Linked DNA regions of Homo sapiens: all the other regions are linked to region 1. Evidence: fine-mapped expression QTL. A gene starts in region 1. Each other region holds a variant in brackets. All regions are shown on one strand. Distances are from middle to middle. Region 1 holds the start of SFXN4 (sideroflexin 4). Region 2 overlaps GRK5 (G protein-coupled receptor kinase 5). Region 3 overlaps LINC03036 (long intergenic non-protein coding RNA 3036). Region 4 has its middle 13 kb from the start of BAG3.

Evidence for each region. PIP is the estimated chance that this variant, and not a neighbour inherited with it, causes the effect.
Region 2: its variant is fine-mapped to the expression of SFXN4 in spleen (GTEx, PIP above 0.99).
Region 3: its variant is fine-mapped to the expression of SFXN4 in ovary (GTEx, PIP 0.99).
Region 4: its variant is fine-mapped to the expression of SFXN4 in skeletal muscle (GTEx, PIP 0.96).

Annotation. Positions count from the first base shown.
Region 1 is chr10:119,164,334-119,166,974 of GRCh38, reverse strand. It overlaps SFXN4 (sideroflexin 4), which reads left to right and starts at 1,261. Exons shown (of 14, transcript NM_213649.2): 1 at 1,261-1,438. The coding sequence starts at 1,328. RefSeq lists silencers at 1,113-1,582, 1,624-1,810.
Region 2 is chr10:119,292,857-119,295,554 of GRCh38, reverse strand. All of the region lies in intron 1 of GRK5 (G protein-coupled receptor kinase 5), which reads right to left. Among named protein-coding and RNA genes, the nearest start is that of GRK5-AS1, 45 kb to the left of the region's middle. The variant C/G (reference allele first, on the strand shown) is at 1,430.
Region 3 is chr10:118,975,628-118,978,325 of GRCh38, reverse strand. The region is part of intron 2 of LINC03036 (long intergenic non-protein coding RNA 3036); the gene reads left to right. Among named protein-coding and RNA genes, the nearest start is that of LINC03036, 53 kb to the left of the region's middle. The variant G/A (reference allele first, on the strand shown) is at 1,202.
Region 4 is chr10:119,637,012-119,639,709 of GRCh38, reverse strand. It overlaps the pseudogene RPS8P4. Among named protein-coding and RNA genes, the nearest start is that of BAG3, 13 kb to the left of the region's middle. RefSeq lists a silencer at 2,583-2,698. The variant G/A (reference allele first, on the strand shown) is at 1,516.

The DNA.
Region 1 (2,641 bases):
TCTGGCTCCTTTGTTAAGACGACATAGCAGTCCAAAGTGGGGAAGCAGGCCAGCGGGCTGGCTTTGTGACATCCTGGAGGGTAGAGACAACAGAATAGAACAGCACGCTACATACTGCACTGGTGCTTAGATGGATTTCTGCGGCATAAGGGTAGAAGTGGAGGGGGCACCTTACTCAACTCGGAGGGTCAGGGAAGGCTTCCTGGAAGAGGAGATAAACCCCTGGAGGTTAAGAAAAGTGAGCTAGGCAAACTGAGCAAATACAGAAGCAGAGTCATACAGGCCTGAAGGACGCCATGAGCCAATTTCCTGTTCCTGGAGGCGCAGGGCAAGGGAAGGAATTGGCCCGCTGGAGGTTAATGGCCAATACTGAGCACTTCTGAGGGCTCAGTGCTGTGTTAGGGATGTTTTATCTCCTTTGATCAGAAACAAAACCCTGAGATAGGTACAATTGTTATCCTCATTTTGCGGATGGGAAAATAGACTTCGAGATACTGACTTGGCGAGGGTCACACAACTAGATGATGTGCTGGGTCCCCCAGTCCTGGACTCCGGAGGCCCCCTGAACGACCTAGGCACACTTGTGGCTTCCGTGAATTTAAGTGCACACAGCCCCCGCCTGGCCCTGTGCTGGGGAAGGGCAGGTGGGAGGAGGAAGGGAAGGCAGGTTTTTCTTTACAAATGGTACCTATTTGGTAGTCAACAAAAGGAACTGGATTTGCCCCAACACTGGAAGAAAAAAAAAAACAACCTGTTGGGCTGAGGGATAGTGCACTGTGCCCAGGGCCCTATACTTGGTTTGATGCTCTGGTGTTACTCTCTTGAAATTCTCAGTAACATGAATAAGGGGCACCGCATTTGACATTTTCCCTGGGCTGAGACCATGATGCAGCCGGCCTGACTGCGCAACACCATGCACACTGGAATTCGTGGGCCATCGGAGGGATTTTCGAGGGTAATGACCAGGGGTAGGGCGCGGCAGAAGCGCAGGGTGAGGTTGCGGACGGCCTCACTCACAACCTTTCCGGGTCTTCGCATTAGGTACTGTGATGACGGGTTCCGATAGTGACCCCTTGGGGCCTGGAGACGGCCCGGCTCCCCAAAGGTGCGGAGCAGGGCAAGCAGGGTTGGGAGGACGTGGCCCGTGGGAGAGCTGCGCTCGCCGGAACAGTGGGCGCGCAAGGGCCCCGAGGCGCTGTGACACGGGACGTCGGGCGCGCGGGCCTGGGGCGGGAACTGCGGGTGCGCGCGGCCCGGGGCGGGGCTCGCCGCCCGGCTCCTCCTCCACGCGCGGCCTGGCGGCGGCGGCCACTCTAACCAGCGCAAAATGTCCCTGGAACAGGAGGAGGAAACGCAACCTGGGCGGCTCCTAGGACGCAGAGACGCCGTCCCCGCCTTCATTGAGCCCAACGTGCGCTTCTGGATCACCGAGCGCCAAGTACGGCCCGGGCCCGGCGCGACTAGGGGCAGGGAGGGGGCGGGCCGGGCCGCGTGGAGTCGGGCTGACCCGGGTGACCTTGGCCAGGCCACGTGGGCGCCCCCTGTCTCCGTTTCCTCCTCTCGGAGTTGTGCCGGGAACGCGCACCACCGGCCTTCACCCCTTAGGGCGCGGCAGGGGACGCAGGGGAAATCGAAGCTGCCAGATGCCCACGACCACAACGTCACCCTCCAGATTGCCCTCTCGGAGGGGCCCAGTCCGCGCAGGTGGCTGCTCCCTACTGCCTGAGCTGTGGCTGAGCAGCAGATTGGGGAGAAACAGGCTCTCGCACCTTGGTAAGCTCAGCCACTTTCGGTGAGACCCCCGAGGCTTTGGGAAGCCACCCTTGGGCAGGACATAAGCAGGACTTATCTCCCTGCAGCGTCTAGGGCAGCACCGTCCAATAGAAATATGATGTGAGCCTTACAGGTAATTAAACATTTTCTAGTAGCCACATTAAACAAGATAAAAACAGCTGAAATTTTTAACAATACAGTACATTTAGCCTAGCAGGTGCAAAATATTAACATTTCAACATGTAATCAGTAAAAAACATTGCTGAGATATTTTACTCGCTTTTTTGGTACAGAGTGTTCCAAATCCGGCGTCTGTTACCTTCACAGCACATCTGGGTTCAGCCGCATGTGGCGAATTGGAGAGCAGGGCTTTAGGGGGTTCTCTTTGAGGCCTCTCCTAAAGTGGGGTCCAGCCCTGTTTTTTTTTTAGGTGGGGAAATTGAGAAGGGGCGGTGAGCTCAGGTTGCTCCAGCAGAGCCAAGGCTTAAAGCCAGAACCACTACAAAGTTTAGAGTTTGCTGGAGCAAACCTCTTTTTCCCCAGTGTGACCCCAGCTGCACCATTGAGCCCTTAATGGGGCGTCCATCCTTTGTCACTGGAGTGAAGCCTTATAGCAAGCAGAGAGTGAGGCCACAGACTCTTGAGATATTCTAGGCCATTGCTTCGAGGTCGTATGTGAGATATGAACGTAAGACCATTTGAACCCCCAAAGTCTGGGATTTTAACCCTCAAGGGCAATTTGATACTGAGAGGTTAAGGGCACAGACTTCTGAATCATTTCCTGGCTGTGTTGCCTTGAGTACATTCAGGAGTCCCTCTAAGCCTCAGCTTCCTCACCTGGAGAACCTGGAGAGGTTGGGAGGATCCC
Region 2 (2,698 bases), 130 kb before region 1:
TTGGGATGGTTCCATGATTTTGCTGCTATAAATATGCGTGTGCAACTATCTTTTCCATATAATGACTTATTTTCCTCTGGGTAGATACCCAGGAGTGGGATTGCTGGATCAAATGGTAGTTCTACTTTTACTTCTTTAATGGACCTCCACATGGTTTTCCATAGTGGCTGTACTAGTTTACATTCCCACCAGCAATGCCTGATGGGTTTTCCACTTATTTATTCAGCTAATATCTATTGAGCGCCAACTGTGTCCTGACCAGTGTTGAGTCTAGGGCCCCACAAACAGGATATGTTCTCTGCCCTTAAGATGCCTGTGATCTGATGGAGGGACTGGTTGACTTTTTTTTTTTTTTTTTTTTTTTTGAGACTGAGTCTCGCTCTGTCGCCCAGGCTGGAGTGCGGTGGTGCGATCTCGGCTCACTGCAACCTCCGCCTCCCAGGTTCAAGCGATTCTCCTGCCTCAGCCTCCTGAGTAGCTGGGACTACAGGTGCATGCCACCACGCCCGGCTAATTTTTTGTATTTTTAGTAGAGACAGAGTTTCACCATGTTAGCCAGGATGGTCTCGATCTCCTGACCTCATGATCCACCCACCTCAGCCTCCCAAAGTGCTGGGATTACAGGCCTGAGCCACTGCACCCAGCCAGCCACCATGCCCTGCCCAGACTTTTTCTATAAAGAGGCTTTGTCTTTGCAGACCACATGGTCTCTGTCAAGACTACCCTGTTCTGCCATTGGAGAGCAAAACAGCCATAGGCAATATGTAAAAAATAGGCATGGCTCTGTTCCAAAAGAACTAAAGAACTTTATTTGTAAAAATAGAACTGGCCTAAGGGTCACAGTTTGCTGGCCCCTGTCCTAGAACCTCAGAAGTTCTAGAAATTATATGTCTCCCCCTGCCTCCCTCCTCCTTAGCCCTGCGAACCTGAGCAATGACCCTGGCCACACAGAGTCTAGACCCAAATCTCCTGACCACTGGCTCACACCTGATTCCTACTTATCTTGTGCCTGGGGTGAGTCTTGGCCCTTTCCTGAGAACAAGAGCATTTGGAGAGAAAAGCCCAGAGGTCCAGCTTGACAGGTGGCTGGCGGCAGGTTGGGTCAGGACAGTGCCTGCCTGGGAAATCTGCTTTTGGGATTCAACATTTCCCTGCAACCCAGCCCCTCACCCCAACTCCTAGGTCCTGGCAGAGGGCTGGGGGGACACGTCTAACCAACCGAGATGTGGTCCTCACCCGCAAGAGCACCTGCTGGGTTGGATCAGGCCTTGTGGACCCATTAAAAGTGGTTATAGTCTCACCTTACCAAGAAATTGAGACTAGGACAGGTTCTGAAATATGCTCGAGTGGCAGAGCAGAGATTTGAACTTGGGTCTGTGAAATGTTCTCATCACCACACATGCCTCTCACCCAGATCCAGGTACGCTTT[C/G]CTCCCTGCAGGAGGGGTCAGAGGCAAATACACATGCGTCTCCTCACACCATGAAAGTAAGTGGAGAAGCTGAGCCTCCCTCATTTCACAGCTCCTGGGTCTCTGTTTTTCCCCAACTCCACAAAGCAGAGGTGGGGGTGGAGGTTGAAAATGCTCAGCTCCCAGACCCCCGGGATTAGCAGGTGATTGTCAAGCATCTGAAAAGACACAGAGTGCTCTTGTCATTATTAGATCGTAATAGATTCATACTCACCCCCTCCATCTGAAGGCGTCTATTTCAGGTTTAACGTAACAATAGAGTATTGTTCCTACTCCAGACTCGGGTACCACCCCGAGGCGATGGCAGCACCCACCCAGCCCCACCCTGGCACTGACTGCTGCCTCGGGGCAGAGGCAGCACCACCCAGGCATCCAGGCCATCATCCACTCCCTCCTAGATTCCCAGCAAATCTCCTGGGCAGTGACGAGGAGGCCCAAGGTCTATCCGGAAGGAGGAATGTACAAAGAAGCCAATTTGCCTGATACTTGGTACCTGGCAATCCGCAGTCAACATAAACTATCCTCCCAATGCCCACGGCCAAAGGTCACCAGAGTGACAGACCCATGGCTGTGCACTGGGAGGTCAAAAGACAGACGAGGAACAACAATCACTTAATACACAGAGTGCTTGCTGTATACCCCATCTCTGCTCCTCAATTGTATTCAAGCTTTGCATTCAAGGTTTTACAACTATCCCATGGTAGAGCTTAGCATCTGTTAGCTAATGAAACAGACTGGGCGTCGCCAGAGAAAAGCACCCACTGGTCTCAAACTCCTGACCTCAAGTGATCCACCCACCTCAGCCTCCCAAAGTGCTGGAATCACAGGTGTGAGCCACGGCATCCAGCCACCTCAAGTCTCTTGTCTGTTAAATGGGAGATAAAAATATGTCCTCCACCTGTTTCACAAGAATGGGGTAAGATTCAAAGAGAGTAAGCCACTTCCTGGCTGCATAACCTTAAACAACAGCTTATACATAACTTCTTCAGGTCTTCGCTCTTTTATTTATAAGATGGGAAAATTCTTGTTCATACGGCTCCAGAATATGACAGGAGATGAAGCCACCAAATGCTGAGTGCAGTGCCTGGCCCAGAGCTTGAAGTTTCCCAGTATTCAATGATTAGAGGGTGCTTTGTAAAACATAAAGTCAACACGCAGTTGGCCTCCCATATCCACGGGCTCTGCATTTGTGGATTTAATCAACCATGGATTGAAAACATTCAGAAAAAA
Region 3 (2,698 bases), 190 kb after region 1:
TGACACCCAGTTCCAGAAAGTCTGGTTTTCTTCCCAAAGCCAGAGACTGTGTGCTTCATCTAGGAGGTGGCTAAAATGGCTTAGGGTAGGGGCGGGTGGGTCAAGAGGCTTGCAGGAGAATGAAAGTGAGGGCAGGGTTGCCACTGCTCGCAGCTTCCTGCACAGCCCCACCTTCCATGAACGACGGCCAGGTGGGTGACCTGCTCCAGGTCCCTGGGAGGGCTGGCCGGGGTGGGGCGAGGTGACTGGCCCCTGGTCTTGCAGCCAGAGCCTAAGGCGTCTGGGGACGCTGATCACTTGCAGCCCAGAGAGAGCACAGCTGTCCTCTGCTTGGGGGTTTGCGACACAGGGCAACGGGAGTGGCTGAATATGCAACAGCAAAGGAGACTGCAGCCGTGGAGTCAGGGTCAGGGCACCGCAGTCCTCATTCTAACCAACGCCACTGACAAGCAGTGTGACCTTGGGCAAGTCACTCTACCTCTCTGAGCCTCAGTTTCCTTTCCTGCAAAATGTCAATAATAAAAATACAGTTCCTACCTGGAAGGTTGTTTCTGTGCATAAATGTTGTCAGCTGTCAAAATCATAAAATTCATGGTGAGATCTCATCTCTGCAAAAATAAAGTAAAAAAATTAGCCAGGTGTGGTGGCATGTGCCTGTAGTCCCAGCAACTTGGGAAGCGGAGGTGGGAGGATGGCTTGAGCCCAGGAGGTCGAGGCTGCAGTGTGCTGTGATTGCACCACTGCACTCCAGCCTGGATGACAGAGCAAGACTCTATCTCGAAAAATTAAAAAATAATAAAATGAATAGTAATCCATTGCTATCTGCATTGGTTTGCTCTTATGACCTCTCTGACTTCCTCCCTGCTTGGCTCAGCAATTCCATTCCAGCAGTGTTTCCTGCATGAGGAGTACCTGCTGTGAGAGCCACAGTCACCCTCAAGCCTGGGTGAGCCTGGGTCAGGGCTGAGCTGAGCACAGCCTCCACCTTGGGCTGGGAATTGAGCTCTTCCAGACAGGAGAACAAGGCCTCTGAGCATGGAGAGCCACCAGCATCACCTCACCTGGGTTTAGGGACTTTGCAGACCCCTTTTTGGGGGGCGGTCCTTGGACTCCTCTGCAGGTTACAAACTTCCCACACACTCACCTGGCCAGACTTTTCCATTGGCTGGCCCTTTGGTGTTTGCTTCTTCTTTTAGGACAC[G/A]GATGGTGCTGGGGGTTCATGAAGCACCATTGCAAGGCCAAAGGGAACCTCTCCTTTCTTCACGCCTTCCAGTCTGGCACTGCATGCAGACCGTGGTCAGTGGGGACTGACCCAGGGGCTCAGTCCAAAATGGTTTTATTTTTATTTTTAAATACAAATAAATGAGAAGCTCTGGCTGAAATGCTGTTTTTCTCTTCTTGTTCTTTCCCTTCTCTTTTCCCCATCCTTCCAGGCTGCTCCATCCCAGATCAAGTGAATCAGAATCTCTGGGGGATGGGACCAGGTCTGGTTGGTGTTTTTTGTTTGTTTGTTTTGTTTTGTTCTGTTTTTGTTTTTTAGGTATCCTGGGTAATTTTTGTTTTCTGGTTGTAAATATGAAGACTTTTTAAAAATTTTATTTTACTTTAAGTTCCGGGACACATGTGCAGGTTTGTTACATAGGTAAACATGTGCCATGGTGGTTTGCTGCACTTATCATCCCGTCACCTAGGTATTAAGCCCCGCATGCATCAGCCATTTGTCCTAATGCTTTCCCTCCCCTCACCTCACCCCCCAACAGGCCCAGGTGTGTGTTGTTCCCCTCCCTGTATCCATGTGTTCTCATTGTTCAGCTCCTACGTATGAGTGAGAACATGCAGTGTTTGGTTTTCTGTTCCTGTGTTAGTTTGTTGAGGATGATGGCTTCCAGCTTCATCCATGTCCCTGCAAAGGATGTGATCTCATTCCTTTTTATGGCTGTATAGTATTCCATGGTGTATATGTACCACATTTTCTTTATCCAGTCTATCATTGATGTATCCCTCGTAATTATTATGGGTAGCCCAGTGCTGAAAACCACTGCTTTGGGGAAACTGTTGTCATTAGGACCGGAAATCTCACAGAGGCCACAGTGAAGGGGAACAGTAGTTAGCAACAGTGATACCACTAGGACATGGCATGGCTCTCTTTCCTTTTTCCTACTCTCTTCTACATTGGCTCCTACCTCAAGCCCTAACCTCAGAGTCACAGAATAGCTGCAGCAGCTCTATCCCTCATATCTCCTCAGCTTTGAGGCCTGGAAAGAGGGGGAGGTTCTCTCCTAGGATGTCCATTGGATGACCCACTGCGTCTCATTGGTGCTTGCCTTTGCTGGCTCTGGTTGGCTTGCCACTGCTTGTTTCCATTTGACACATAAGCTTCCTCCAGCAGGTGGACTAGTATGAATTCAATATAATGGGGAGTGGTAATGGGGGATGGGTGAGGTGCTGTGAGAGTGCTGAGTGGGGTTACTAGCGGGAGGAAGGGTCAGTGACAGCTAAAGGGAAGCCCAGTGGAGGAGCTAGGATGTATAACAGCTGGGGGTGAGAACTGGAAAGACTCAGGAGCCACACAGATCCCGTGGCCATCCGCAGAGCCTGGGGAGGGAATACATGTACAAGTTAAAAATTACGTAGTGTCCCACAAGGGTTATAATGTAAAATCTGCAAGGCAATGTCCCCCACCCCCCAGTCCTGCTGC
Region 4 (2,698 bases), 470 kb before region 1:
ATATATATATAGAGAGAGAGAGAGAGAGAGAGAGAGACAGAAAGAGAGAGAGAGATTGAGACAGAGACAGACAGACAGGGTCTCACTCTGTTACCCAGGCTGGAGTGCATGGCATGATCTCGGCTCACTGCAACCTCCACCTCCTGGGTTCAAGTGATTCTCCTGCCTCAGCCTCCCAAGTAGCTGGGATTACAGGCGTGCACCACCATGCCTGGCTTATTTTTTTGTATTTTTAGTAGAGATGGGATTTCACCATTGGCCAGGCTGGTCTCAAACTCCTGACCTCAAATGATCCACCTGCCTCAGCCTCCCAAAGTGCTGGGACTACAGGCATGAGCCACCGTGCCTGGCCTTCAGTGTATTTTCTTGTGCACAGGTCATTTTGCAAGAAAGTACGAGTAGGTCTATCAATACCTGGAAGTGGAAGTGCTCCATCATCAGGCCAATGCGTTTTAAAATTTAAGTTATTTTGCCAAATTTGTCTCCAAGGAGGTCAGGGAAGGTCAGCCTCGCACCAGTAGCGTTCAGAGTGCACGTTCCCCATGACTTTTTTTTTTTTTTTTTTTTTTTTTGCCACAGAACAATAGACACCTTTATTCCATGGGCAAAGACAGAAAGGATGAGGATTTATTTGCCTTTCCGGGCCTTGATTTTCCTAAGATAGAACTCCATCTCCTTGCCCCCTGGCACATAGACATGGGCTTGGCCACACTGTCCCAGCCTTGAAGCGACGCATGCAAGAAGCTTGCCCTGCTGGAACTGCTCCCCCAGGAGACGGCTGATTTTGGCATTCTTTTCCCTTTCATCGTATTTCTTCTGAATTTTTTTAGATCGTTTTTTGTTTAAAGTCTTTTCTTCCTCAGGAGTCAGTTTGGCTCCCTTCTTGCAGCCCAGGGGCAGCGCATAGTGGGACTCATACCACTGGTGGTACGGTGTGCTGTCAGTGAGCACGAAGCAGTTCTCCACCAGGGTCTTGGTACGGACCAGCTTGCTATTGGGCGCATCGTAGACAACATCAGTGATCCTTGTTTTGCGAGTACAACACTCTGAACCCCAGGAGAAATTCCCCATGTCCCGCCTCAGGGCACCGTATTTATTGTTACCTCCCCGCACACGGACTGTGTGGATGTGGTGGGGGCCAATCTTGGTGTTGGCAGCCAGGTGCCCCAACTCATACTTCCGCTTCTTGTCGTAGGGCTTTCTCTTGCTGCCAGTCTTGCGGCGCTTGTGCCAGTTGTCCTGAGAGATGCCCATCACTCGGCGCTGGCTGGAAAGAGGCCCCATGATCTTACCGGACCGTGTTAGCTAATGTTCTGATCTTTGCCAATCTGATATATTCCCCTTATGCTTTTAATTTGAATTTCTATTATGATGAGTGTAATTGAGCATCTTTTCTTTTTTTTCTTTTTTTTTTTTTTGAGACAGAGTTTTACTCTTGTTGCCCAGGCTGGAGTACAGTGCGATCTCGGCTCACTGTAACCTCCGCCTTGTGGTTTCAAGCGATTCTCCTGCCTC[G/A]GCCTCCCAAGTAGCTGGGATTACAGGCACCCACCACCACTCCTGGCTCATTTTTGTATTTTTACCAGAGACGGGGTTTCACCATGTTGGCCAGACTGGTCTTGAACTCCTGACCTCGTGATCCGCCCACCTCGGCCTCCCAAAGTGCTGGGATTACAGGCGTGAGCCACTGCACTTCGCCCCTGTTGAGCATCTTTTCATGTGTTCAGAGACATTTGGAATTCTCTTCTGCGAACAGTCTGAACCTATCCTTTGCCTGTTTCTCCACTGGGACTAAGGGATAATGAAAATGATTTTTACAGATGCAAAAGGGGTTAAACAAGAGCACCAGGTCGATGTGGGACCCATAACAATGGGGACTGGCATTGAAAAATGGCCTGAGGCATTCTACCTCTGGTCCAGTTGCTTGAGATTTCTGACTGAGGCCCCCCCCTCCCACTCTCGCCTAAGCAGCAGCCAGCTCTGGAACCAAGGGAAAGCCTGGAAATGAAATTGTAGGTTTAGAAATGAAAATTTGAGCTTGGAATGCAAATTGACTGAGAAACCACCAGGCCCCTCCTCTGAGCCTGGTTTATCTCCAGCCTCTGAGGCTGATTTAAGCTTGGTCGGGGATAGAAGGAAGTGAGAGGTAGGAGCTCGCTGCATGACTTAATAGGCTGAGAGGAAGATGAAGATTGAAACAGGTACACATGTCATAAAATGATGGTCAGAGACCAGTGTCAGGAATTTCTTCCAAGGCCACAATATTCTTCTGCCTTGTTCTTTTGTCTTTTCTTCACTGGCTAGGGCTGTGCTAAGTTAAAACCCAAATGGACAGTCATTTCTATCTAAATCCGTTACTGTCTTAGAAGGTGTGGGGCAGTGTTTTCAGGATGGAGAAAGAATCAGGGTTGTGCTTTGGGGATCTCTGCCACCATGTGAATTGCACTCTGAGGTTTAAGTAGGTACCGGTACATGTCTTCTATTGTTTCCAGAAGGTGCACAAAGTTGCTTCCAGAGAGCCTGTTAAATCTCATTCTTCTATTCTTATATGCTTCGAGATTTCTTTTTTTTTTTTTTTTTCGAGAAGGAGTCTTGCTCTGTTGCCCAGGCTGGAGTGCAGTGGCATGATCTCAGCTCATTGCAACCTCCGCTTCCTGAGTTCAAGCAATTCTTCTGCCTCAGCCTCCCAAGTAGCTGGGAG